Linked DNA regions of Homo sapiens: all the other regions are linked to region 3. Evidence: fine-mapped expression QTL. A gene starts in region 3. Each other region holds a variant in brackets. All regions are shown on one strand. Distances are between the middles of the regions.

The links.
Region 1: its variant is fine-mapped to the expression of LRRC75A in whole blood (INTERVAL, PIP 0.96).
Region 2: its variant is fine-mapped to the expression of LRRC75A in transverse colon (CEDAR, PIP 0.95).

What each region holds. Positions count from the first base shown.
Region 1 is chr17:16,449,488-16,459,937 of GRCh38, forward strand. The region is part of intron 2 of LRRC75A (leucine rich repeat containing 75A); the gene reads right to left. All of the region lies in intron 3 of SNHG29 (small nucleolar RNA host gene 29), which reads left to right. Among named protein-coding and RNA genes, the nearest start is that of SNORD65, 13 kb to the left of the region's middle. RefSeq lists enhancers at 1-173, 6,894-7,395, 7,396-7,895. The variant C/T (reference allele first, on the strand shown) is at 5,178.
Region 2 is chr17:16,438,138-16,445,325 of GRCh38, forward strand. LRRC75A (leucine rich repeat containing 75A) reads right to left here. Exons shown (of 4, transcript NM_001113567.3): 4 at 3,440-5,994. The coding sequence ends at 5,451. It overlaps SNHG29 (small nucleolar RNA host gene 29), which reads left to right and starts at 850. Exons shown (of 4, transcript NR_045025.1): 1 at 850-923; 2 at 2,048-2,116; 3 at 2,937-2,993. SNORD65 (small nucleolar RNA, C/D box 65) reads left to right here and starts at 3,089; the gene lies at 3,089-3,161. It overlaps SNORD49B (small nucleolar RNA, C/D box 49B), which reads left to right and starts at 1,372; the gene lies at 1,372-1,419. It also overlaps SNORD49A. RefSeq lists enhancers at 1-253, 254-1,153, 269-458, 5,658-6,557, 5,671-5,750 and 2 more. The variant G/T (reference allele first, on the strand shown) is at 4,302.
Region 3 is chr17:16,487,292-16,497,741 of GRCh38, forward strand. LRRC75A (leucine rich repeat containing 75A) reads right to left here and starts at 4,902. Exons shown (of 4, transcript NM_001113567.3): 1 at 4,454-4,902. The coding sequence starts at 4,699. It overlaps LOC124903936 (a long non-coding RNA gene), which reads left to right. Exons shown (of 3, transcript XR_007065641.1): 2 at 79-155. RefSeq lists enhancers at 1-539, 10,340-10,450 and silencers at 4,505-4,564, 4,675-4,724, 4,815-5,154.

The sequences.
Region 1 (10,450 bases), 38 kb before region 3:
CACAGCAAGCTCTCCAGGCACACTCTAAGTGAATACCGTGATAGCGGCACCAGCACAGAGAATTCTGGCAGGGCAAGGAGGGAAGATGACTTCTGCCCAGGCTCAGATTTGAGCTCAGCTTTATTTTAATTTAATTTAATTTATTTTTTGAGACAGTCTTGCTCTGTCACCCAGGCTGGAGTGCAATGGCACGATCTCGGCTCACTGCAACCTCCGCCACCTGGGTTCGAGTGATTCTCCTGCCTCAGCCTCCCGAGTAGTTGGGATTACAGGCACCCGCCATCACACCTGGCTAGTTTTTGTATTTTTAGTAGAGATGGGGTTTCACCATGTTGGTCAGGCTGGTCTTGAACTCCTGACCTCAAGTGATCCACCCGCCTTGGCCTCCCAAAGTGCTGGGATTACAGGTGTGAGCCACCGCGCCCAGGCTGAGCTCAGCTTTTAAGAGCAGATGGGTTAGTGATTTCAGATGGAGAAAGAAAACGTGAGGCATCCTTGAGTGAGGAGGAAACAGTCTGTGGCAGGGCTTGGTGATGTGGCGGCTGTGGGGTGTGTTACTGACATGAGGGCAGGTGAAGGCCTGGGGCCTGATCACATCTGGTCCCTCCATGGTTCAAGCCACTGTCAGCCCTGCACACCAGACATCACGCAAGAAGGTTATGGAATTCCCACAGCACCCCAAGGCAGTAGATACTTTCGTTATTCCCATTATGCAGTGGGGGAGCCTGAGGCCCAGAGGGCTGGGGATGGGCTTGGGGCTGATGGGAAGGCAAGAGAAGGAGACTCTGAGGAAGGGGGACAAGAGAGAGAGGAGTTGGGAAGATGGCAGTTGAATGTCCAAAGGAGAGAGGCATCTGTGGAGGGACCCAGGAAGCAAAGGAGGGCCCGAGACTGAACAGAACGGATTTGGAGGAGGCCCCTGGGCTCCAGTTCACAGCCCATCCCCACCCCTGCCCCCAGCTTCCTGGTGCCTGGCTGTCTGATGAATAAGCTTGTATCACCTGCCACTTGCACCTGTATCACACCTGTGTGTTACACCTGTCACTCCTGTGTGTCACTCTTGTGTGTTGCAGATGTGGGGGCAGGTGAGCATCTGCCTTTACGGCTTCATTCCCCACCCCTGGAGCTGACATCTTTTGGTTCCTAGACTTAGCTTCTTGCTGAACCTGGCCACATGACTGTGTGGAGGGAAGCAAGGCGGGTGAAGCAGGAGGAGCTGGTCATGGGGGCTGCAGGGGAGTCCCTCAAGGGGGATGTTCCTCAGACTGGGAGATGGAGAGAGGGGTGGACAGGAGGTGGAGAGGATGACTCAGGGCCAGGCTATTGGAAGGGGCTGAGGGGACAGAGGCCACACAGCTGACTGATATGCTGGATGGAGAAGGTGTGGGCAGGGAGGGTGAGGAGGGTCTAGGCTTTGGGCTTGGGACATGAGTAGAAGGCAAGGGGCTCAAGACAAGAAGTGGGTGAGAAGGCAGGAGGGGGGTGACCTGCTCATGTGGGGCCATGGTAAGTTTGAGGAGCTCACAATACCTCCAGCTGTGGATGCCACTGGACTTATGGGGTTGGGGCTCAAGACAGGTCCAGGCTGGACACATTCATCAGTAAGATTAAACCCCTGGCCAGAGAATGAGCTAAGCAGGAGGGAGAGAGAACAGTGGACACACAGCAGTCAGAGAAGACTCCATCAGAGCAGCAGGAGTAGTGGAGTCTGGACACCAAGAAGAGTGACTAATGGGGTTAGACCCCCACCCAGAGGCCACTGGGTCTCCAACAAGGAGGCCATGGCCAGCACAAGTTCAGGGAGTGGGGCCATGGTGGGAGCCGACCTTAGAGCTCAAAGGGAGAATAGGGGCCAGGCACGGTGGCTCACGCCTGTTAATCCCAGCACGTTGGGAGGCCAAGGTGGATGGATCACCTGAGGTCAGGAGTTCGAGATCAGCCTGGCCAACATGGCAAAACCCTGTCTCTACTAAGAATACAAAAATTAGCTGGGCGTGACGGCGGGCGCCTGTGATCCCAGCTGCTCCGGAGTGCTGAGGCAGGAGAATTGTTTGAACCCAGGAGGCGGAGGTTACAGTGAGCCGAGATCGCACCACTGCACTCCAGCCTGGGTGACAGAGTGAGACTCCATCTCAAAAAAAAAAATAATAATAATAATAAATAAATAAAACAGAGAATAGGAGGTGACACTGGAGATGGCCCATCTAGAGCTGTGCTTCTTTACCTTGGAATCTTTCATACCGGAATCTCAGGGGAGCTTTTTTTTCTTTTTTTTGAGACGGAGTATCGCTCTGTCGCCCAGGATGGAGTGTAGTGGCGCGATCTTGGCTCACTGCAAGCTCCGCCTCCCGGGTTCACGCCATTCTCCTGCCTCAGCCTCTCCAGTAGCTGGGACTACAGGCGCCCGCCAACATGCCCGGCTAATTTTTTTGCATTTTTAGTAGAGACGGGGGGTCTCACTGTGTTAGCGAGGATGGTCTCGATCTCCTGACCTTGTGATCCGCCCGCCTCGGCCTCCCATTACAGGCGTTAGCCACCGCGCCCGGCCTGGAATCTCAGGGGAGCTTTAAAGTCCACTGATGGGCCAGGTGCTGTGGCTCACTCTTGTAATCCCAGCACTTTGGGAGGCTGAGGCAGGAGGATCACTTGACCCCAGGAGTTCAAGACTACCCTGGGCAATATAGTGAGACTTGCTCTCAAAAAAAAAAAAAAAAAAAAAAAAAGCCCATCATGGTGGCATGTGCCTGCAGTCCCAGCTACCCGGGAGGCTGAGGTAGGAGGCTCTTGAGCCCCGAAAGTGAAGGCTGCAGTGAGCCGTGATCACACCTCTGCACTCCAGACAGGGTGAGACCTAGTCTCAAAAAACCAAACCAAACCAAACAACAACAAAATAACACTGATGCCTGGGCCACCCCAATGATGGGTGGGTGGCTCAGGCACAGGGATTTTTTTTTTTTTCTTTTTGTTTGAGATGGAGTCTCACTCTGTTGCCCAGGCTGGAGTGCAGTGGCGCGGTCTTGGCTCACTGCAACCTCCATCTCCCAGGTTCAAACGATTCTCCTGCTTCAGCCTCCCAAGTAGCTGATTACAGACGCCTGCCACCACACCCCGCTAATTTTTTGTATCTTAATAGAGATGGGGTTTCACCATGTTGGCCAGCCTGGTCTCGAACTCCTGACCTCGTGATCTGCCCGCCTCAGCCTCCTAAAGTGCTGGGATTACAGGTGTGAGCCACCCTGCCTGGCCACACGGGGATTTTTAAAAGGTCCCCAGGTGATTCCCTAGTGCAGCTGAGGTGGAGAAGCACTGGTTCAAAGACCATGGGTGGGATCAGGTGGTCTGCCCAGCATCACTCCTGGAACCACCCCAGGACAGAATGTAGCCAGTCTCCAAAGCTTAGAACTGAGCCCCTCAGCTGCAGCTCCTCCTTCAATCACTTCCCAGGGTTTCCAAAATCTGGGGCCAAAATCCCTGTCCACCCTCTCAGCCTGGGCAGCTGAGCCTTAAAAGAAGAGAATAGAGGCCGGGCGCGGTAGTTCACGCCTGTAATCCCAGCACTTTGGGAGGCCGAGGCAGGCGGATCACAAGGTCAGGAGTTCGACACCAGCCTGTCCAATATGGTGAAACCCCATCTCTACTAAAAATACAAAAATTAGCCAGGCGTAGTCGTGGGTGCCTGTAGTCCCAGCTACTTGGGAGGCTGTGGCAGGAGAATCGCTTGAACCCGGGAGGTGGAGGTTGCAGTGAGCCGAGATCGCGCCACTGAACTCTGGCCTGGGCGCCAGAGTGGGACTGGTGTGGGACTCCTAAACACACACACACACGCACACACGCACACACGCACACGCACACACGCACACGCACACACACACACACGAGAACAGAGGACAAGGGGGCATCACTGCACTGCCATTGCCACAAGGGGGCAGCCACGCACAGGGCCAGGCTCGGGATGGAAGTGTATCTGCCACTACCAGGGAGAACTGAGGAGCCTGCGTCTCCTCACTGGCTAGACAGGAACAATAGATATGGACACCTCATAGAGTTGCCTTGAGAGCACAAGTGAGCTGATGTTCTCTCAGGAGTGAGAGTTCCCTTCTGCTTGTCTGAACTAAACTGACAACAGCTAACATGTATTGAGCAGCTGCGATGCATTGGGCATCTCCTCTGAGCACTGTTTGCATGAACATTTTGGGGCTCAGAACACAATTCCAAAGCATGGCGCCGGGGCCAGCAGAGAGCTTTGAACTAACGGAAATTGGAAGGCCTCAGAAGCAAAGTTTTTCTGCCCTTCTGCTGCCCTCCTGTCTCTGGCCCTTCTTCTCCCCCAGAGTGAGTCAGAGAAACCAGAATTCTTCTTCCCCAAGGCAGGTCACAGAGACCAGAACCCCTCTCCCTCAAAGCAAGCCATAAAACTAGGCAGGTCACTCTCTCCCTTCTGTCTTGAAGACCATTCCAGAGGGGTAGGAAGGAACACTGCAGAGAGAGGCCAAGAAGAATCTGAGCAGATAGCCTTCCTGGGTCCCCTCGGCCTATCACCATTAGATCACACCCTTTGTCCAATCGCATTTCTACAAGCTTGTGCACTCTTTACCAAGCCTGAGTATAAAAACAGATAGCTGGCTGAGTGTGGTGGCTCACGCCTGTAATCCCAGCACTTTGGGAGGCCGAGGTGGGTGGATCACCTGAGGTCAGGAGTTCGAGACTAGCCTGGCCAACACGGCGAAACTCCATCTCTACTAAAAATACAAAAAATTAGCTAGGCATGGTGGCGGGCACCTGTAGTCCCAGCTACTTGGTAGGCTGAGGCAGGAGAGTTGCTTGAACCCAGGAGGTGGAGGGTCCAGTGAGCCGAGATCACGTCATTGCACTCCAGCCTGGGCAACAGAGTGAGACTCTGTCAAAAAACAAACAAACAAACAGGCCAGGCGTGGTGGCTCATGCCTGTAATCCCAGCACTTTGGGAGGCAGAGGGGGGCGGATCACCTGAGGTTGGGAGTTTGAGACCAGCCTGACCAACATGGAGAAACCCCATCTCTACTGAAAATACAAAATTAGCCAGGCATGGTGGTGCATGTCTGTAATCCCAGCTGCTCGGAAGGCTGAGGCAGGAGAATCGCGTGAACCCAGGAGGCAGAGGTTGAGGTGGGCCGAGATCACGCCACTGCACTCCAGCC[C/T]GGGCAACAAGAGCAAAATTCCGTTTTAAAATAAATAAATAAATATAATTAAAATAAACAAATTCTAACAAACAAAAAACCAAAAAAACAAAAAAACCTCTTTCCCTGGGGTTTGGGGTCTTCATTTCTTTCTTTTTTTAAAGAGATGGGGGTCTCACTATATTGGCCTTGCTGGTATTGAATTCCTGGACTCATGTAATCCTCCTGTATCAGCCTCCCAGGTAGCTGGGGCTAAGGGTCCTCATTTCTTTTCTTTTCTTTTCTTTTCTTTTTTTTTTTTAGTGACGGAGTCTTGCTCTGTCCCCGCCCTCAGGCTGGAGTACAGTGGCACCATCTCAGCTCATTGCAACCTCCGTCTCCCAGGTTCAAGTGATTCTCCTGGCTTAGCCTCCCGAGTAGCTGGGATTACAGGCGCGTGCCACCACGCCCAGCTAATTTTTGTATTTTTAGTAGAGACAGGGTTTCACTATGTTGGCCAGGTTGGTCTTGAACTCCTGACCTCAGACGATCCGCCTGCCTCGGCCTCCCAAAGTGCTGGTATTACAGGTGTGAGCCACCGTGCCTCACCTGAGCGTCTTCATTTCTGAAAGCTCCCATGTTGCGTAAAATTTTGATTAAACACATTTGTTCTGCTTTTTTGTTACCCTGTGTCTGGTTATAGGAGTGTCAGCCATGACCCTTATAATGAGTGAGGGAAAAGTACCACACAGTTCTGCCCTACAATTTTTTTTTTTAGACGGAGTCTTGCTCTGTCGCCCGGCTGGAGTGCAGTGGCGCAATCTCAGCTCAATGCAACCTCCATCTCCCAGATTCAAGCGGTTCTCTTGCTTCAGCCTCCCGAGTAGCTGGGACTACAGGCACCCGCCATCCATGCCCGGCTAATTTTTTTTGTATTTCTATTAGAGACGGGGTTTCACCATGTTGGTCAGGCTGGTCTCAAATCCTGACCTCAAGTGGTCCACCTGCCTCGACCTCCCTAAGTGCCCTACAAACTATAGTCCCATACCTTACTACAACCCTATGAGACAGGTATTATTAATAACCCCGCTTTACAAATGAGGGAACTGAGGCAAAAAGAACTTAAATAGATGGGCAAGGCCTCCCAGCTTGTAAGACGGAGTCAGGATCTAAAGTCAGCCAGCTCTGAGGCTGATGCTCCTAACCGCTATCTGCTGCCCTCCTTGTGAGAAATCCTGTCTTTGGCTTAGGTCAGTTCAAAGTGTTTCTATCATTTACAACCAGAAAAGCCTTCAGTGAGACTGTCTCATTTTTTCCCAACTCTTCCACTTTTCAAAGAACCCCTCCAGGGCTCCCTCCTGCAGAGAACAGGACTAGGCAGCACTGGCCCAGAAGTGGAGCAGTAAGAAGGTGGGGAACGGGGGGAGGGAGAGGAGGAGAAGGAGGAAGAGGAAGAGGGAGAGGAGGAGGAGGAAGGGGAGGGGGAGGAGGAGGAGTAGCAGTAGTAGGAGGAGGAGGAAGAGGAGGGAGAGGAGGAGGAAGAGGAGGGGTAGGAGGAGGAAGAGGAGGAAGGAGGAGGAAGAGGAGGAGGAAGAGGAGGAAGAAGAGGAGAAAGGAGGAGAAGAAGGAAGAGGATCAGGAAGAGGAGGAGGAGGAAGAGGAGGAGGAAGAGAAGGAAGAGGAGGAGGAGGAAGAGGAGAAGAAGGAAGAGGAGGAGGAAGAGAAGGAAGAGGAGGAGGAAGAGAAGGAAGAGGAGGAGGAAGAGAAGAAGGAAAAGGAGGAAGAGGAGGAGGAGGAAGAGGAGCAGAAGAAGGAAGAGGAGGAGGAAGAGGAAGAAGAGGAGAAGGAGAAAGAAGAGGAGGAGGAAGAGGAAGAGGAGGAGGAAGCTGGACTTGACACTGAGACACACATACCCTAACTCCTCCAGTGGCTGGAACCCTGAGAAGTAACCTGGGAGCCATAGCTAGCCACATTCCCTACCATGCGGCAGGGGGAAGAGCAGTCTGTGCAGAGGGAACACAGAGGGAGGCAGGGTAGAGCAGCGAGGAGGGAAGGAGGGACCTCTGCACCGTGCTTATCTATAGTTCTAGCACCTTGGTCTAACTTGGCTGCCCGTGGGCACCACAAGACACCTCGATATCTGTAGAACACATTTTCTTCCTTGCTGGAGCCAGCCCGCCTGGGCTTCTGTTATGTGCAGCAGAATCCTAACCCGCCCAGAAGGCTCAATGGCTGTGTGCTGAATCAATGCTTTGCAGTCCTCCCCCGATCCCTGAAGATGGCAGGAGTGGGATGTGGCACAGTCAAGTGACTATGAGTGCAGGTCAGGGCAGCAGCCTCTCCAGACCTTCCCAGTGAGGCTGCCCAGGTCCTGGGGCAGAACGTGTTTGAGGGGCTTCTCATTAATCTGTCAGGAAAGATGACGTGCTGACCTGCAGGCTGACCTGGGAGGGGTACCAGCACCCGACACTGCTCTGGCTCTCAGCCATCAGGCAGTGATACCATCTGCCATCTTCACTCCCCAGGCACCTCTGTAACTGCTCCAGGACCCCGACAAGCACAGCCCTCCACTGCCCTCCATTCAAGGCTATCCCTCCCTCATCCATAAATTCATTCATACATTCATCAAATGTTGACTGTCCCCCTCATTACACTGGACACCATTCCAGATGCAGAGACTGTGTGCCGGCTTTTCTGTTTCCTCTTGCCCCACAGTCCACTCTGCCCTTCTCTGCTCAGAAGGCTGGGCTCTAGAGACTGCATCACTGGGCTCTCTTCCCCCTGGCTTCCACTTGGGTTCAGCTAATGGGAGCAATGGCAGCAAGACCAGAGGGCAGGAGGAGAGACGGATGGGGGAGTTTATTCTGATTCCCCCACTTCGGCATGTGCAGCCGCCGGCCTCCAAGACAGCCTTGCTGCTCTCGGCTCCTGGCATCTGTGCCCCTGTGTAATGTCCTTCCACATTGTAGCAGGGCTGGTCTAAGTGAGCAACAGAATCATTAGAACCAATAGAATGGTGGAAATGATGGTTTGTGACTTCTGAGACTGGGTCTTAAAAGGTATTGTGGGGGTTGGGCTCACACCTGCAATCCTAGTGCTTTGGGAGGCCAAGGGAGGGGGATTGCTTGAGGCCAGGAGTTTGAGACCAGCCTTGGCAACATAGTGAGTGCCCCGTCTCTACAAGAAAAAAAAAAACAAAAAATTAGCTAGGCATGGTGGTGCCTGCCTGCAGTCCCAGCTACTTGGGAAGGTGAGGTGGGAGGATCACTTGAGCCTAGTAGTTCCAGGCTGCAGAAAGTTATGATCACACCTCTGCACTCCAGCCTGGGCATCAGAGTGGGACCCTGTCTCAAAACAAACAAACAAACAAATACAAACAACAACAACAACAAAAAAGCAAGGCCAGGCATAGTGGCTCACACCTGTAATCCCAGCACTTTGGAAGGCCAAGGTGGGTGGATCACCTGAGGTCAGGAGTTTGAGACCAGGCTGGCCAACATGGTGAAACCCCGTCTCTACTAAAAATACAAAACATTAGCCAGTTGTGGTGGCAGGTGCCTGTAATCCCAAGCTACTTGGGAGGCTGAGGCAGGAGAACCGCTTAAACCCGGGAGGCAGAGGTTGCAGCGAGTCGAGATTGCGCCATTGCACTCCAGCCTAGGTGATACAGCGAGACTCTGTCAAAAGAAAGAAAGAAAGAAAAGAAAGGAAAGAAAGAAAGGCATTATGGCTTCTATATTATCACCTGTTGTGGGATAAGCCAGCTGCCATGATGTGAGGACACTCAAGCAGTCCCATGGAGAGGCTACAGGGCGAGTGTGCCGCCTTGGAAGTAGACCTGCCAACTTCTTTTTTTTTTTGAGACGGAGTTTCGCTCTTGTTGCCCAGGCTGGAGTGCAATGGCGCGATCTCAGCTCACGGCAACCTCCGCCTGCCGGGTTCCAGTGATTCTCCTGCCTCAGCCTCCCGAGTAGCTGGGATTATAGGCATGCGCCACCACGCCCGGCTAATTTTGTATTTTTAGTAGAGATGGGGTTTCTCCATGTTGGTCAGGCTGGTCTCGAACTTCCAACCTCAGATGATCCACCTGCCTCGGCCTCCCAAAGTGCTCGGTGGCCTCCCAAAGGTGTGAGCCACCGAGACTGGCAGACCTGCCAACTTCTGTTAAGCCTTCTGACACCTGCAGCCCTGACCAATGTCTTGAGAGACCCAAAGCTAAACTACCTACTTAAGCGGCCCCTGCAAACCTGACCTACAGAGACTATAACAATAAATGTCTGTTGTTTTAAGCCACTAAGTTTTGGGGTAGTTTGCTATATGGCAATGGATAATGCAGCGTGGCTCTGGACCAGGTGTTCTCACCCTGCCTCTGGCAATACAGCTTGTCCTCCTGTGAAACAACTTCCTACTACTGCTGTCTTTGGATGTCTCAATGTCCCCTGTTGACTTCCTTTATCCTGTCCTCAACCCTTTACTAAACTCTCTTCAAACTTCACAATGGAATATGTTGCCTGCTTCCTGCCTGGTGCAGGTTGGAATTATGAACAAGACAGACACCCTTCCCTTCAGAGTTTATATTCTAGTGGGGAAAACAGACAATAAATTAGCCAACAAATAAATAAGCAAGGTAATTTCAGAGACCAGTAAGTAAAACAGAGAAACGAATGGAAAAATAAATGGGGCTCGAGACAGGCTGATCAGGAGCCTACACTAGGCAGGCTTGTCAACGAAGGCCTCTCAGAGGCCGTAGGCTCAGTCTGAACTCAGGAGAAGGCAACTCAGACAGAAGAGGCTGGAGCAGTCAAAGGGAGCAGCGACGTCCCTAAGATAGGAGAGGGTGTGGAGGTGTCAGGAACAGAGGAGGGAGGCCCACGTGCTAGAGCAGAGCTCGCAGGGTGGCAAGTGGGAGAGGGGAGCTCAAGAGACTCAGGCAAAGCCAGATGAGGAGTTTGGGTTTTGTTTAAACTACAGCACAGCCCCTCACTAAAGGATGTTCAGTGAGGTCCGTGTAGTATCCAATTTACCTTTGGAACGAGCTCTCCGGTCTTGACACCTCTGCCTATAATCTCTAGACCCATAACGTGGGCTGACATGAACTTCTCAGATGCAAATTGCTCTGACCAGGATGTCCTGGTCAGCCCTCTGGGGTGGATGGAGGGGCTGCTCCTACCACCAGCCTGGGGACCTCCCACCCCTGCCTCATCCAGAGAGCCTCGCTTGCCACATGGGCACGAAAGGGGCCTTCCAGGTCTCTGGGCTTTAGCAGGGCTCACCCACTCTGGCTGGCTCTGATTTTGTTTTGAGGAAAACAAAGT
Region 2 (7,188 bases), 51 kb before region 3:
AAAAAACACAAAAACGAGCAACAACAACAACAACAACAAAAACCCTACACTTATTTCTGAGGCCAGCTCAAAAGGTCTTATGATTGTCTTCCCAGTTTTTTGCAGTCAAAATGAATTTCTTTCCCTTGGTATAACGTGTGTGTGCAAAACGTGGTTGCATGGATTCTTTTTCAAGGAGAGAGCTGAGCATGTTCATAGGCTGAAAGGAAAGCCACAGTAGAGAGAGTTTTCCATGGAAGGTGAGGCAGGGGCATAGGTGGAGGAGGCCCCAAGGAATGAGGAGAGGAAAGGAGGTGGGCAGAGCTTTACCCCAGAGGCGAGCAGAGGATGGACGTGGATCTAGATAAGACGTCAGCTCGTTCCCTAAAGGTCGTGCTAAAGGAGTAATGAGGGTGACCAGTGCGCAGGGGTTTGAGAAGCCCCGTGGATGTGGTGAAATAGCTGTGGGGAGAGTATTTGGCAACGCTCAATAGATTCAGGAGGAGCTACTAGGATGAATGGCTGCCTTGTGCCACAGCTCTACAGGCTTTCACGTGTGTCATCTCACGTGATCTTCTGGGGCGCTGGTGTCTCCGTTTACTAGAGGACCAATCGGAAGCTTAAAGAGAATGAGTAATTGGCCCAAGACCACCCAGCTAAGGAGTGGCGGAGGTGGGGCCCAAACGCGCGATCCAGCCCTCGCGCAGGCGCCCTGGAACTCCCCGCGCGTGTTGTGACCCAGAATTCCCGGGGCTGTGGAAGAGACCATAGACTCAACAGGAGGGGGAGTCCTGGGTAGCGCGCCGGTCTAAATCGTTACTTGGCGGAAAGTTCCCATGAGTCTTTGCCAGCGTCCCCCTCCTTTTGTGAGGATTGGGATATTCCGACTCCTTAAGGGCCTGGCGCACATAAGGTGTGACCTTTTCATTCCCGTTGTTATGGAGGTAGGCTCTCTAGGAATCTGGGAGTAGTAGCTGGGGGGCAAGAGCAAATAAAGAGCTCGAGCTTCTGTGGTCTCTGGGGAGATGTTCCCGGGAAGCCTGTCTAGAGGGCGGAGGGCAGCTGTTGAGATGGCGTGGCTCCCCGGCTCCTGCGCCCGCGTGGCTTTCGCGGCGGGCGCTGCGGCCCGGTATTGGACAGCCTGGCAGGGCAGCGCGGGGCCGAATCCGGCTGCCGTGGCTGAGGCTCATGGATCACTCTTTTGTGGTAGGGCCACATCTGCCAGAGCCTGGAGTCTGCGAAGGCCGGGACCCGGTTCCCCGGCCCACAGTGGGGGTGTGCAAACCCGAGAGAACTGGGTAAGTTGGGGTCGGCTTGCAGTTTGGGGTACCCCGAGGGCGGTGTACGTCGGTAAGATTGTAACAGTATTACTGGAAGACTTATTCGACTGTCCTGATGATACTTGTAATAGGAAGTGCCGTCAGAAGCGATAACTGACGACGTCTAATGTCTATCTGACCGCAGTCGCTGAAACCTCTACAACTTAGTTGACCGTAACTGCCAGAGCCCTGCCCTGAATTCCTGTCCTTACTCCCTCTTTAAGATTGCGTACCCACTGCAGAGTGCTGAAGACGGGGTAGCCACGAGGTGAGAGGCTCTCTGGTGTAGGGTTTAACATGGAACGTAGTTTTGTCACTTGAATGCACGGAAATTGGCGTTTTGACAGTTTTCTACGTTTAGGTGTTTTATACACTTTAGGGTAACGTTATCATGTCATTGCATAGGGTGGAACTTAAATAGAAACTGGAGATGGCTGCTTCAGCCACAGTCCTAACCTAGAACTGCATTTAAAGCAAACTGATAATGCAGAAACAAACTCCTTCGTTAAGAAATGTCTCCAGTAGCAGGGTTAGCTTAAGTTTCAGGTAGGGTCTAGATCTGCGGTTGGAACAGTACTGGAGGGTTGTGAGGTGCTTGACTGCTCTGATGAAATCACTAATAGGAAGTGCCGTCAGAAGCGATAACTGACGAAGACTACTCCTGTCTGATTGCAGTCAAGTCTTCACCACTTGCTGGTTCCCAGGAGTAAACTTGTTTGAACGGTGACCTAATTGCTATATTCACCTAGGTTGCAAATTCGTGAAGAATCAGCATCATGTTTGGCAGCTGAGTATTGGAGCCAGGAGCCTGCCATGAGGTAAGCCTTGCTCTATGGGGAGGCTAGTGGCTGACCACGCCTAGCTGTCAGGTCGAATATTGGCAATTGGATTTGGTTAACCTAATACCTTGTAACAGTGTAGCCTATCCCAGAGATACTGATTTTAGTTTCCGGTGGCAGTGGAGCCAGGGTGGATTACCTAGAAAGAGGGGCTACTCTATTTACCTCTTGGCTGTTTAGTCTCGGGCAAATTACCTGTCTGCTGAGATGTAGTTTTCCTCAGATGTGAAAAGGAAAAGTAATCTTAGCTTTGTGAAGTTTAAATTGATATGACTGAAATGGAGATTACAACTCCCCTGAGGCTGGGCACAGTGGCCTGTAATCCCAGCACTTTGGGAGGCTAAGGTGGGTGGATCACCTGAGGTCAGGAGTTCAAGACCAGCCTGGCTGGCCGACATGGTGAAACCCCATCTCTACCAAAAATACAAAAATTAGCCGGGTGTGGTGGCGTGTACTTGTAATCCCAGCTACTTTGGGGGCTGAGCCAGGAGAATCGCTTGAACCCGGGAGGCGGAGGTTGTAGTGAGTCGAAATCGTGCCACTGCACTCCAGCCTGGGCAACAGCGAGACTCCATCTCAAAAAAAAAAAAAAAATTACAACCTACTGAGAAGCTAATTAAGATTTGTAGTCCTCAATAATTTACAAAAACTTAGAAAAATTACCTCTAATTAGGTCTTAAGGGGCTTTTGTTAGGATGGACTTAAATTTGTAAAGTCATTAATTGACTGTCATCAGAAATGCCTGTCCTGCTCTGCATCTGCAGTCTCTAAGGTGTATGCGCCTTCTCCATTCCCCCAGGTTTTGAGAACAGAGTGCTGTTTTAGAGCTGGCAGCAGCATCTCAGCCCAAGAGAAGGTAAGCCTTGAGCTGGCCAATGATCCCTTCAACCCCATAGTGGAATGAATAAACAGCTGATCTTGTTAAAACTCGCTTCAAAAAAAAAAGATATCAAATGATGAAATCACCCAAAATAGCTGGAATTACCGGCAGATTGTGTAGTGGTGAACCTATGGTTTTCTGAAGATATCTCTTACCCTGTGATTGACTGTCAGTTGGTGCAGAAAGTGAGATTGAAATGTAGTTTCTTTGCAGGTTATATTCCCAGAGGATGTCAGTCCCAAGGACCAGTAGCTGCCATCAGTTTGGATTCTGAAAACTAACTGGCATCAACACTGGGTGTAGAAACATGCTTGCCTTATGTATCAGAGGACATGCTCAGCAGATCCAAGAGATATATTTGGCAACTTTTTCTAGAAAAGGCACATTGGGTATCATTCATTACATTCTTGAGTTTTTTTGGGTTTTTTTTTTTTTTTTTGAGACAGTCTTGCTGTATTGCCCAGGCTGGAGTGTGGTGGCACAATCACAGCTCATTGCATCCTCAATCACCCAGGCCTAAGCAATCCTCCCACCTTGTAGCTGGGACTACAGCTCACAGCACACCTGGCTAAAATTTTTTTTTTGTTGAGACGGATTCTCTATGTTGCCCAGGCTGGTCTCAGGCTCCTGGGCTCAGATGGTCCTCCTGCCTCAGCTTCCAAAGGCACAGGCCAAGTTGTAGCTTTGTCCCTTGCCATCATGCCCAACAAGAGGTTCTATACCTTTTAATGAATTGACTTTCATAAATTGGTTATGTTGGTGGGCAAAGTTCTTTAAGCTGGAAATTGTAAATTCCTCCTGAAATGTTTTTTCATGCAGTTACCATGAACTAATACTACAATAAAGGATGGTCTTGGGTGTCAATTCTTGAAAATGTGTATTTGAAGAAAAAGTAAATTTCGCCTACTGTTGTCAGATATTAGCAGTCCAGATATTCGCTCTAGCTTGTAAACTTCCCTGTGGTCAGCCTAAGCTCTTAACCCCCTATTCTACAGCTTTAGACTGAAGGCAAAAGCTCAAAGCATTTAAGGCCTCCTCAATTTCGGCCCCTGCTGCTCTGTGCTCTGTTCCTTGGTGTAGCTTTGTTCCAGCTCCTGCAGCATTGCACCATTCCTAACCACAACCTTAACAGCATGTAGGGCCCCATACTCTAGGCCCCATCTTGCTGTCTTCCTGTGTTGGAATCTTGCCTACCAAGGCCTGTCAAGAGGGTCCTCCCCCATACTGTTTGCCCACAAGGTTCAAGAGTGATTGGCTCCCAGTCTTCCTGGACTGAACTACTTG[G/T]ATCTAGGGGTTGCCTGTTATTTAGAAGAGATCCCTTAACTGGTAGGGCCCTTTCAGTAGGACAGTATTTGGGTAAGGGGAGGGTATAAGATGAGAACCTTTGCTAAGTTAGGTTCCTTTGGGAGCCTCCAGTTTGTTTCTCCCTCTCCCCAGCCATCTTGTTGGATCTGCCAAGGGATTGGACTCCTTCATTGTCCTAGGTTTTTAAGGTTTTAAAGCCCACCTTCTGCAGTCGGTTTTCTGGAATGTGTTGGTGGATTACTTAAGAGTTATGGGGAAAGAGTTCTTACGGCCTGTCTAGGTCAGTGAAGTCATACTGGCAAGTGACAAGAAGGAAGCCAGGTTTGTCACTTACCCTGCATGCTAAGGACATCAGAGCCCACATAGAAGTCTGGTAGTTTTTCAGCCAGCAGTGGGTAGGGAAGGTGGATAGGGGATTTCTGAACAGGACTTTATGCCTGTATGCATGGGCACCATGTCTGTCCTGAGCACTACCACATGGCATCGTAGGCTGCTCTGTCAAAGGATATAGCGATAGCTGGTCCTATGGGCAGATGCCTAGAATCAAGGTGGGCCTCAGAAATAGGGCTGGGTCTCCATAAGGAGGTAGGCCACGTTCAGTCCACCCCTAGCATAGATGGAACTGGGGTCTCGGGCAACCAGGAGTTACAGGAATTTTGCTAAAGATTCCCACCTTCCTTGAGTGGGGACACATTCCTCTGGTTGGAGCTTGTTCCCCTAAATGAAAAATGTAATGCAGTACATGTAGGGGCCCTACTGTATTCTTTTTCTGGGGGAAAGCTCTTGGTGTTCACAATGGCTCAGGCTTACAGTACCTCCAGCCATGTGCCCATTTCCACAAGTCTTTGGGGAAGGCCATGAGCTGAGCTGAGAGGGTTCTCTGGGGCCTGGGATGACTTAAGAACCAAATGGCAGATAATGGGATAGGGGGCAGATGCAGAGGACCAACGGGAAGTTTTAACACAAATCCCCTTCCCCAGATGATATGGTTTGCCTTTCTGTAGGTGGGTGGCCCAGGCCAATTTTTGGCAATATCCTTAACCCACCTGATAGGAGAAGCGCCCTCCCCTGCCTGCCTTGCCCATTCTACCCAACAAGGACTCCCTGGTGAGGCCCTTCACTTCCATGTCACGTCTGAGCTGCAGCTACAGTCTCCTTGCCCTCATGGTGGTCTTCGGCAGGTGCCACAGGGCCCCCTCCAGGGTCCTCCTGGCCTACTGTCCCTTCCCGGACCTCCTCCCCACTGCCTGGGCCCTCACCCAGCTCCAGGATGGTGGGTAGGTGGCCCTGCTTTGGGGAGCGCTTGCGCAGGCTGAGCAGGAAGGGCTGGGGCAAGGAGAAGATGTCCACGTTGTTGCCCAGGTCAATCCACGTGACATTGGGGAACTTGCTGGGATCCTTAAGGATGTCAGTGAGGTCGCGCAGCACGGCCCGGGTCAACCGGTTGCCATTGAGTGCCAGTGTGGTGAGGCGGGGCAGGGTGCTGAGTGCTGGCAGCAGCTGCAGGACCATGTCGTCCGTGAGGCCTGTGAAGCCCAGCTCCACGCTGTCTACCTGCTCCCCACAGCGCTGTAGGTAGCTGGTCACCCGCTCCAGGTCTCGGGAGGTCAGTGGGATTCCCGACAGGTCCACTGTGTTGTCTGGGGGGCTTCCGGCCAGGACAGCCTTGAGGCTGAAGGGAAAAAGGACAAACAAGGCTCAGGCACATAGGGCAGGCCTTTCCCCCAGAAGCTGCAGTGCCAGCCTCTGCTCGGCTCTCCGACGCTAGGGACTGCTTTTACGAAACACTTGGATGTCGGATGCCACAAGTGCAGAGGTGGGAGCAACCAGGGACCTCAGTCCCCTGACACTGCCGCACGTCTCAGCTGTCAGGGCCCAGCTGGCCGTAGCCTGAGGTATGTGGCTGCCCCTATTTACCAGAAAAATTGAGTTAAGAGTACCATTGGGCTGATATATGGAAGAAGTTCATAAGTGCAAAATGGTGCCTTGTATAGTAGGCGAGTGAGGAATAAACATTTGCTGCTGTATTCATCACCTGGACTCAGCTTCCCACTTCTACCACCCTGGGGTGGCAGCTCAGCCCCCATGAATGGCACAAAGGATCTCTGAGTCCCCTCTTTCAAGACCATCTTCCCCACCAGAGAAGGATTCCCTATGGGGAGCCTGTAAGACAGCAGGCAGGGCAGGGCTCAGGGGCTCTGAGCCTGGTGGCAGCTGCTGACTCCTGGAGGCTGAGTGCCTTGCTCCTTGCTTCTGCTTGTTCTTGGGACAGAGCCCAGGCAGTTCAAGCTGATGGCAAGTGTGCCCTTCCCTGCACACCCCCCACCCCACCCCCGCCATCTGTTTGCTGGCTCCAAGGCCCAGGTGCAGTGGTGAGATGTTCATTTTCCACATTTTTTTTTTTTTTTGGAGACAGTCTCGCTCTGTCACCCAGGCTGGAGTACAATGGCACGATCTTGGTTCACTGCACCCTCTGCCTCCCGGGCTCAAGTGATTCTCCTGCCTCAGCTTCCTGAGTAGCTGGGATTACAGGCGTCTGCCACCACGCCTGGCTAATTTTTGTATTTTTAGTAGAGACGGGGTTTCACCATGTTGGCCAGACTGGTCTGGAACTCCTGACCTCAGGTAATCCACCCATCTCGGCCTCCCAAAGCATTGGGATTACAGGCATGAGCCAACACGCCTGGCCATTTTCTGCATTTTTTTTTTTTTTTTTTTTTTTTTTTGAGACAGTCTTGTTCTGTCACCCAGGCTGGAGTGCAGTGGCGCCATTTCTGCTCACTGCAATCTCCACCTCCTGGGTTCAAGCGATTCTCCTGCCTCAGCCTCCCGAGTAGCTGGGACTACAGGTGTGTGCCCCCACGCC
Region 3 (10,450 bases):
TAAAGAAGTGTTCTTAGGTGGAGGTGGAAGGAAAAAGGTGACCTTCTGAGGTCATTATGCTCATCTTTCTGCTTCTAGGTAGTAACGACCTGTCCAGTCTCCACATCTCCAGGGAGTCTCCAGGTGTCTGTCCATTGCTCAGCTCCACTTGAGGGGTGAGTTAAACTCTTAGGTCCTGGCTCTGTGGCCCAGGCTGGAGTGCAGAGGCTTGATCTCGGCTCACTGCAACCTCTGCTTCCCAAGCTCAAGCCATCCTCCTACCTCAGTCTCCCAAGTAGCTGGGACTACAGGTGCACACTACCACACTTGGCTAGTTTTTGTATTTGCATTTGTAGAGACAGCCATGTTGCTCAGGCTGGTCTTGAACTGGTGAGCTCAAGTCATCTGCCTGCCTCAGCCTCCTAAAGTACTGGGATTACAGGTGTGAGCATTTCGCCTGGCCTCAGTGGTTCTTGTTGGCATTAGCTGATGTGGTTCCTGTTCCCAGGTGCAGAGTGAAGCCAGCCTCACCACCCCAGACAGCAGCAGGAACCAGGATTCCAGGCCCTAGCCATACCACTGGGAGGCCCAAACAAGTTAACATAGGAACAGCCCTGCTTAAGAGGTGTGCGCCACACTTCGAGTAAACCAACCCCATCAGCCTCTTCTCATGGGAAAGCTGGGGTGCTGGTGAACACGAAGACAGGGGCTACCTCAGCTGGGTGTATCCCAGGGAAACAGACGCCTTTTTCTGCTGCTCCATGACGCAGGCCGACAGCTCAGTCTAAAATTTTGAGGACTCAGGGAAACTGCTGGGGTGAAGAGATGACAGCTCACCCTCAAGGTGGCCTGGCACTTGCCCTCTCTCAATGGCGGAAGGTTATTTCTTCTCCAGGGCTCCTTAAAGACAGCAGGCCTGAGCCCAAGGGGAAGGACATCTGGGGAAGGGGAAAGCCTGGAAGGATGGCGGCCAGGAAAGGGCAGAGGAATGGCCTCTCCCATCCAAAGCTGGCTTGTTTTATCTCCACGAGCATTCGCTCCAGATGCTTCTAAATGTGCAGTGAGTTTTTGATCCAGACTGAACCCTGGCCAGGTAGATGGAATCCAAAAAATTCTTGGGCCATGCCTGAGAAAGGATGCCACAACCCTGCCCCTACTGGGGCCAGACCCAAAGTGAGTAAGGCAGATTCTCCTGTTTCACAGTCACCAAGAGAATGTGTCTTGAATGGCAGCACCAACACCATTTCATTCACTTTGTAGCATTTGCTGTGCTCAGTACCCCAGATCCCTCTTTGGGAAACAAAGAAACACAACTCAGAGAGGTTATCTGCTGGGCCCAAGGTCACAGCTGACTGAGGACCGGAAGGCGAGCTGCCTACTTGATCCTTGGCCCTGGACTCTTCTCAGATTACACTTATCTTAAAGGGAAGGGGATTACTTTCTGTTCCTTCAAGGCAGCTGCCTGGCATCCTGCCTGCACCCCTGGCCACAGCTCAGGGTCATTTGTGCTGAATGAGGCCTCCTGATACCTCTCCAGCAAGTGACAAGCTGGAGAGACGCCCTCCAAATCTTAGATGCTGAAGAGGGGCATTCAGAAGAAGTGGCACCAGCAGCCACAATCCTTCAGCCCACCGTGAACTGCCACACATGCACCCGGGTCAGGTCCCTGTTTCCAGATCCCCAGCCTGGAGCAAGTCACAGCAGGGAGAAGGGTGGTATTGGACTGGAGCAGAGATTCTGAGCTTGGAGTCTGTAGCTGGGTTTCAGGGGCTTTGTGAACCCTCCGAAATTGCCTGTGAGATTGCGTGAGTCAGTGCATTTGCCTGGGAAGATTGTGTGTAGCTTTTTCAGAGCCTCAAAAAGATCAAGGACTCAAAGAGGCTAAGAAGCACAGGAACAAAGGCTCCCGAGTCCCCACCAGCCATATGGCTCTGGGCATACACAAATCCAGCAGCCAAACCCAAGTTATCAAATGCAGGAGAACATGCTGTGTGAATGGAGGTGAGGGCTACTGTCCTCGCTGCTGCCCCTCCCTGGTTCTGTGCCTGCTCATTGACTCCCACCCCAGAGGCCTGCATGACATTCCTGCAGAACAGGGTGCCCCACGCTTTGCAGACCCCTGTCTTTACTGGCTGTCTTGCTGAGGAAGAGGTTCTTGCTGGTCTGACCCCTGTGAGGCTTGTGTGTTCTCAAGGCTCTCACTAGCTGCTCATTCCCTTTCTGAACATCACCACCACCAGACTAGAGAAGGAAACTGGAATGGAAAGGAAAATGCAATTTTGGAGAAAGAGCCACTTCAGTGCACAGCACAAATCCAGCTGGACATTCCTCCAAATGGCCTCAGGGTCCTAGAAAGCCACCTCTCTGTCATAGGCAAGTGAACACTCCTGTGCTCCACTCCCACACTGCTCAAGGCCCATGACCACTTTCGGGAGGGGTCCTGCTCCATCCGTTCCAGGCCACACAGGGCAGCTCCAGGCCCACGGCCCTTGCATCCCCAGCCAGGGGTTAAGGGAGCCCAACAGGAGCCCAGAAGCCCAGAGCCTGAGGACCTGCTGCTTTCACAGAAAAGGGGGAAGTCTGATAAGCCCCCTCCCACCCCCCCATCAGCCCTCCCAGTCCTGCAGCTGAGGCGGGTACCAGGACACCAATAAGACCCATGTGCAGATGTCTGAGGAAATGCTTCTTGTTTCAAGGATCCCACAGTGGGGCTGCAGGGGCTTATCTACTCTCCCTCAAGGCAGGGAGAAGCTCAGTGTCCCCAGGATGTGGAATCACACTCAGCCCTACAGGGACTGGGGAGCCCAAAGTATCTGCCCACTTTGGGTCCAGTCTCCTCCCGTGGGCCTCCAAGCGGCCCTCCATCATGCAAGCTTCGCTCTGGTCTTGCACCCTCCAAGAAGTGCTTGCCAGCTCCCTCTGTTCTTCTGTATCCCCCAAAGCACCCATTGCAGGGTGGGGGAAACAGCATGTGATCAGGAAAACCTTACTGTATGGTGTGTAAATAGGATACCATGGTCTGGAAAACCCAATATTCTGTTTAAAAGTGAAAGAGTTACTATAAAGGCCATATGTCAGCTTCCAATTTTCAAAAGACAAAGAAATACACACTGCTAAAGTTCAGTGGTGCATAATGTCATCTTTCTTTGATGACTGAACTCAGAGAAGGCACATGGGGATCCAGCAGCGTCTCGGGCATCATTCTGGAAGTTGTTGGGGAAAACAGAGGCAGAAGCAGAAGTCCCACATCTTCCCAAGTCCCCTCGTCTCTGCTTGCCTCTCCCTGTGCAGTGCACAGCTTGGGGACACATACTTTAGGGTAAGAGCGCACCAGATACAAAGGTGGGGAAGAGTGCTGCAGAACCCAAGAGGGATGTGGGTCTGATTAGATTTTGGAAGCTCCTCCCAAGAAGGTGCTCCTACAGCCTCTTTCAGCAGCGACTGGAAAACCCCAGAAAGGTCACCTGAGATTTTCCCTCTGCCATCCACGGTAGACTCCACCTCTAATGGGGTCAGTCTAGCAAGAATATGGGGCCTGGATTGTCTACCCACCAAAGCCAGGCCAAGACAACCTGCTTGGTGATGCAGGAGAGCAGCTTTGCACTCCCCTGCCTGTCTTATACTCAACAAAATCCATGGCATGGGCCATGCTCCTCTCCCCACCAAAGAAACTGACAAAGGAAAACAAGCCACAGAGAGGTGAGTGATAGCATTAGCCTCAGGGCAGCCCCAAAGCAGAGGGAACTGGCCAATTCCGCAACATCTGTCCCTAGCCAGTGGGACAGGCACAGGCTAAGGACAGAGTCCTGGCAGTCTCCTGAAGTTGCTGCTGGCCAGGTGGTCACACAGGGCACCAAATCCAGCTCCCCTGTCTCTACCGCTTTCCGCAGGGGCTCATGGTTGAGGATCTGCTGAAGTTAGTCAGGGGAGAGGAAACAGTCTCCTCCTTGAACTACAATCCAGGATGCCTCCCAGGCGAGTGAAGGACCTAGGGACTGGAATCTCATTGGCCCCAGGGCTGTGCCCCTGGACTCGCTCTCGGGAAGCCAAGCCAGGTCCAACTGATAACCGCATTCCTTGAGGACCCTCGGCCGGGAGTGACTGCCAGTGGGCAGACAGGAAGAAAAGAGCCCTGGCCCAGATCAGGCAGGCATCCCTGCTTCCCCGCCCACCGACTGTCCCCGGAGACCAGCCTCCTTCTCTGCCTGCGGAGGAGAGCAGTGGGGACATTATGCCAACAGGTCCCCTTCGGCGGGCCTCACCCGGCCAGCCTTCCTCCGCCCTGCCCTGAGGCCCCACATTCAGCGGAAGCGCCGAGGCACCTGCTGCCAGACAGGGCTCCATCCCCGCGGAAGGGGCCCCTGGGCGGTGCCCCTCGGTGCCCCCGGCTTCCTCGGTTAGGGATGGGGCGCCCCCCCCGGCCCAGCACGCCCCCTGGCCCGGCGCGCCCCCCGCGCCCCCTCCCCGCGCTCACCTGGCGCAGGTGCTGCAGCAGCGTCCCCGCCTCCTCCCGCCGGCCCTGGCGCACCATCCGCAGCAGCTCCTGGACCATGCCGACTCGCCGGTGGTAGGGGGGCATCCCCGCGCCCGCGCGCCCCGCCTTGTCCCCGGCGCGCAGCAGCAGCGACGCCCAGAAGTCCGGCCGTTCGCGTCGGGGGCCCGGCGCGGCGCCGGGGCTGGCTCTCTCCGCCAGGCTGCCCTTGGTCTGCCGGGTGCCCATGCCGCCGCCGCCCGCCGGGACTCTCCGCTCTGGGCCGCGAGGCCGCGTCCCCGCCAACCGCCCGCCCCTCGGCCGCCCGTGCGCGCTCGCCTCCCGGGCTGCAACTTTGGGGGAACTGTTGCGCGCGGGCGTCGCGGGGGCGGGCGGGCGGGCGGCTGTCGGCGCTCCCCGCGCTCCTCCCTCTTGGCTACCCGGGCGCGCTCCCCGGGCGCTCGCCGCCGGCCCGCCCGCCGGCCCCGCCCCGGCCCGGCTCGGCCCGCCCCGCCCCCCGCCTCCGCGCCGGAGCTCCGCGGCGTCGCGCGCCTCCCTCTTCTCGGGCTCCCGCTCCTTCCCGCCCCGCGGCTCCGGGCTGGGGACCACCACCAGGCGCCCCCTGCCTGCGTCCTCTCGGCAGTCGCGCCTCCTGCGGGCGGCAGTGCTGCGCTTCCCGGGGCCGTGGCGCGGGGGCGAGGGGAACAGGCAGGCCCCATGGGCCGTCGCTCTCGGTCCCCACCGGGCTCCCCGACGCTTCCACCACCGCGCGCCCGGTGCGTCGGGCGAGATGGGGAAAGTTTGGAGCATGGGGGTGTGTGTGTTGGGGGGCTCTCTTAGGCCCAGAGTCGGGTTTCTCAAGGTGGGTTCCGCTGAGCCTCAGCGCCCAAATCGTCGGAGGCGCTGGTTAAAAACGCAGGCTCTAAGGCCTCCACCGAGACCTACTGAATGATAATCTCCTCGGTGGGGCCTGGGATCCGCCTTTTTAGCCAGCATGTTGGGTGATTCCCATGCACGCTCCTTTGAGACCTGGCCTGCTTGCAGGGCGCTGTAGTGGTGTGGTTGGTGCGTAAACCTGGAAACTGTGCGAGCTTATGGGTTGTGTGCGTGCCCTTCTATGGAGAGGGCCTGTTGCTTCCATCATGCTCTCAAAGCATCTGGACCGGAGAGGTGTGAACTCCTGTGTTCTCTTGTTCTCACTCTCACAGCCCTGGAGAAGGGTCCCTGGGGTAGTCCTGGTACAACAAAGCAAACGCACGTCTGCGAGTAGGCCCAGCGGTACACCCTGCTGGCCCACCTTCCTCCCCGTGCCTCTGCCAGGCCCAGTCTGTAAGGGACCAGAGCCCTGGGATCTCATGGTGTTGCCAGGGCTTGCCAGAGTGAAGGCGAAGGCAGGTGGGGGAGCTTCTCTGTTGCAGACCACAGGCCGCCCTGGTCCCAGCGCAGGGCAGAAGCAATTGTGCAAGCTCGCCTCTGACCCCAGCTCTGGGTGTTGCTTGAGGGTGTAAGGGCACGTGGGCTGTAGGGGCAGGAGGCTGGATCCCAAATCACAGGGAGCTGAGCCCCACTACTTAGTGAGCACTGAGTATCAGGCGAGTCTTCAGCTTCTTGAGTCCTGATTCTTCCTGTCAGGCTAGGATAATAACACTGCCAAGAATTGGGAGAGTAAACTCGGTGGACACTGCTAAAGGAAAAAATTATTTAATGACATGAGTTAAAGCATCGTAAGGAAGACTTTATTCAGGACCATTACCATAGGTGTAGGGACCTCTGCTATGAGATTTTGCAGTTGCAGGGAGAGAGAGATTGAGCTCAACTCCAATTACAGCATGGGCAAGTGGGAATTCGTTGCTAAGGAGCAGGGTGGGGGTCAGCGGATAGAAACTTAATAAGGGAAACATCAGGGCTGAGGGGGATTCTGGCTAAACAGGTTGTATGGAGCACCCTTGACATAAGTAACTCCATCTTAGAAAAAGGGTCCATTTTACATTTGAAAAAGCCTCATGCCAACAGGAACCAGATGTTCGCCTAATCAATAAAGACTACACCCCACCAGATAAAGACATAAACAGGCACACTCTTTGCTATCAGTCCTCACCAGAGGATTCTGTAGCCATAAAAAGAGCAGGACTTCAGCAACTGGAGATGACCGTCTGGATAGACCCCATCTTGCCCACACTCTGCCCACATCAAAGACTCTTCCTTGCAAGACACTGAGGACTGTTTGGATCAGGCCAGGAGACTCCCCTTGTCCAAGTCACTCTCCTTGGACTATATTGTTAACCGCTCCTTCCCTATCCCCTTTTCTCTTGATGTTAAATGTACTTTGATGTGGAATGTGTAATCTATAACATTTATATATTGATTAAGTATACTACCATGTATGGTTGGCAGTATTGACTGACTTGTGGAGTGACTTGAGCCTGTATGCCCACAGCTCTTATTACCAAGTGAATGGGGAAAACTAAGGAGAATTTGCCTCCTTGAGAACCCCATGTGGCTTGTGGCTTTTATGACTGAAATAGCATCAATAAAAGCCTGACGTTGTAGAAAGACACACATGTGCATGAACCTGATTATTTCTGACTTTGTGGCACTCACAACACCAACCTAACAGAATTCTTGCTTTAGACAGGCCAGGTGACCAGAGATCACCTGGGGGAGGGTGGGGGATGATAAACCTAATCAGATATTGAAGATGATCAGATATACAAGATGGAGGGTTCTTGCTAAACTGTCTTAACAGGGTCTTTGCTAAAACTGGATTTTACATGGAAGTGCAAAGAGGGTCTAGGAGAAGGTTTGGGAGCCTGACTAAAGTTTGGCCAAGCAAAGAATCTTTGTCAATATATAAACTTCAAGCAGAGTAGAGATGTTCTGCAAATGAGTTCCTCTTCCTGCTCTGTGATCACAGGGTTTTCCATAGGTGTCTTCTCCGTTATCCCTGAGTACCTTGAGTATGAGTCCTGGCATCTCTCCTGCAGGCATTCTCTTCCCTTTGGCCACCCCACTCCCAAATGTCCATCTCTGCCAGCAGAGAACACTCAGTCTTCCTACAAGCTGGCTTTGCAGGGCTTGGACAGCACTTTCCAAACTTACCTGAACCCTTTGCATAGGAGCACACACCTGCTGGCATCTCCAGAGAACCCAGCTTGAAAAATACTTATGTGTCTCTCATCTCTGGTCTGCAGGACCACCAGACAAAGTGGCCACCAAGGACACCTATTGACCAGGCCCCTCCCTACAGACAGTGAGCTCTACCCACCTGGAGACAGACCACACAACCTAGATAGCCTGTTGGCCTGCTTGAGGGTGTGTGGTTGGGGCAAATGCCATTTCAATGGGAGAGGGGCCAGACCAGCCCCTCACTTGGGATCTGAATGTTAGCCCTCTCCTCTTTTTCAGAGACCTGATTCTATCCTCCTCCCCTTGCTCTTGATTTTTTTACCCTGACTTTTCCTGTTTTCTGGCTTGTTCTCCTCAAGATATGCTCTACTCACCTCTCTTCCATCTATTGAAAAATTTCATTTGCATCTGCCTGCTTCAGTCACCAGTGCCCCAACTTTATCCTTTCTTTTCAGCTAAGATTTTTAGTTTCCCTCCCTCCCTCCCTCCCTTCCCTCCCTCCTTCCTTCCTTCCTCCCTTCTTTCCTTTTCTCTCTCTGTCTTCCTCCCTCCCTTCTTTTTTTTTGAGACAGGGTCTCACCCTGTAGCCCAGGCTGAAGTGCAGTGGCACCATCACGGTTCACTGCAAACTTGATCTCCTGGGCTCAAGCTAGCTTCCCACTTCAGCCTCCCAAGTAGCCAGGATCACAGGTGCACGCCACCATGCCTAGCTAATTTTTGTAATTTTTTTTTGTAGAGACGGTTTTACCATGTTGCCCAGGCTGGTCTTGAACTCCTGGCCTCAAGCAATCCTCAGGCCTTGGCCCCCCAAAGTGCTGGAATTACAGGTATCAGTCACCACGCCCAGCCTATTGTCATTCTTTCTTTACCTCCATTCGTTCCTCACCCACTTCAGCTTGGCTTCTGGCCACACCATGTCACTAAAATGCCTCTTGCCTTTAGCCTTTAGCAACAGCTAAAGAAGTGACCTAGTTGCTACACTCAGTGGCCACATTCAGTCTTCATCTTACTTGACTTTTAAGCAGCATCTGATCCTGTTGCCTACTCTTTTGATTGAAACTCTACTCCCTTGGCTTGCAAGGAACTACTCTCCTCTAGGTTTCTTTCTTGAGTTCTCCTGGGAGCTCCTTTTCTTACCCTCATTCTTTACTTGTTGCCTTTATGCAGGGTACTACCCCGTATCTCTTCCTAGGCAATGCTATTTATTTATTCATTTATTTGAGACAGAGTCTCAAATAAACTTATTTGAGACAGGGTCACCCAGGCTGGAGTGCAGTGGTGCAATCATAGCTCACTGCAGCCTTGAACTCCTGGGCTCAAGGACACTCCTGTTTCAGCCACCCGCGTTTCTGGCACTACAGGCACATTACCAACATGCTCTGCTGGGCAATATTATTTGTAATCATGGCTTTACTTGCCATGTACACGCTGATGACTCTTTCCAACTTATAAGCTAATAAATTAACCTGTCATTGATTCATGGATGCTAAAAGAAGACATGACACTCTGTGGTCAGAAACATAGGACTTTGTTACTCAGAGCACAGCAAGAAGCATGTGCATCAGCATATTTGCCTCCAAGTCTCACAGGGGCAATATGGGGGGCCCAGATGGATGTTCCACAGGCAGCTGGTTAGCGTCATAGCTGAGGAACACCGAGCCTGGAGCTGCTTATGCAGGGAGGAGTAAGCAAGCCTGCTCTTCCTCCTCCAGGGAGATGGTACCTCATCCCTCAAGGCGGCTCGCTGTAAACACAGCACTGAGAAGTGGCCCAGGTTAAAAATGGTCAGGGTCTTGCAATCTTGGCATACACAGCAAGATGTGTGAGAGTGCAAGGGACCCACGGAGGATCATCTCTTCCAATAGTGAGCACTTCATGCTCGACAAATGAGCGCATCCTCTTCCAGGCCTCCCTCCCAATCTACCCACTCCTGTCTCCGCTTTTAGTAACAGCAGGCCAGAAACCCGGGAGTCATTGTGCACTCTTTGTTTAACCTGCATCTTGTTAACCAAGGATAGTTAATGATGCCAAGGATGGGAGCTCTCATTTGCTGCGCATTTCCTGTGTGCTCGGTCTTGGGGTGTGTTCTTTGCATATATTAGGCAATTCATCCTTTCCACAGCTGCGAGGTAGGCTTTGTTATTGTCCTGATTTCCCAGGTGAGGAAATGGAAGCTTAGAGAGGTTAAATGACTTGGCCAAGGTCACACAGGTAGTAAAGGGCAGTGTTGAGATTCACGCTTAGGTCTGCTAGCATTGTTAAGGTCCTACATTTTTTTTTTAGACAAGGTCTCACTCCCGTCACTGAGGCTGGAATGCAGTGACGTGATCATGGCTCACTGCAGCCTTGACCTCCCAGGCTCAGGTGATCTTCCGACCTCAGCCTCCGTAACTGCTGGGACTATAGGCATGCATCACCATGACTGGCTAATTTTTGTATTTTTTGTATAGACGGGGTTCCACTATGTTGCCCAGGCTGGTCTCGAGCTCCTAAGCTCACGAGGTTCACCAGCCTCAGCCTCCCAAAGTGTTGGAATTGTAGGCATAAGCCACTGTCCCTGGCCTTGATCCTCCTTTTTTTTTTTTTGAGATGGAATCTTGCTCTGTCACCCAGGCTGGAGTGCAGTGGTGCCATTTCGGCTCACTGCAACCTCCATCTCCCGAGATCAAGCGATTCTCCTGCCTCAGCCTCCCTAGTAGCTGGGACTACAGGCACATGCTACCACGCCCAGCTAATTTTTGTATTTTTAAGTAAAGACAGGGTTTCACCATGTTGGCCAGGACAGTCTCGATCTCTTGACCTCGTAATCCGCCCACCTCGGCTGCCCAAAGTGCTGGGCTTACAGGCGTGAGCCACCATGCCCTGCCGGTCCTA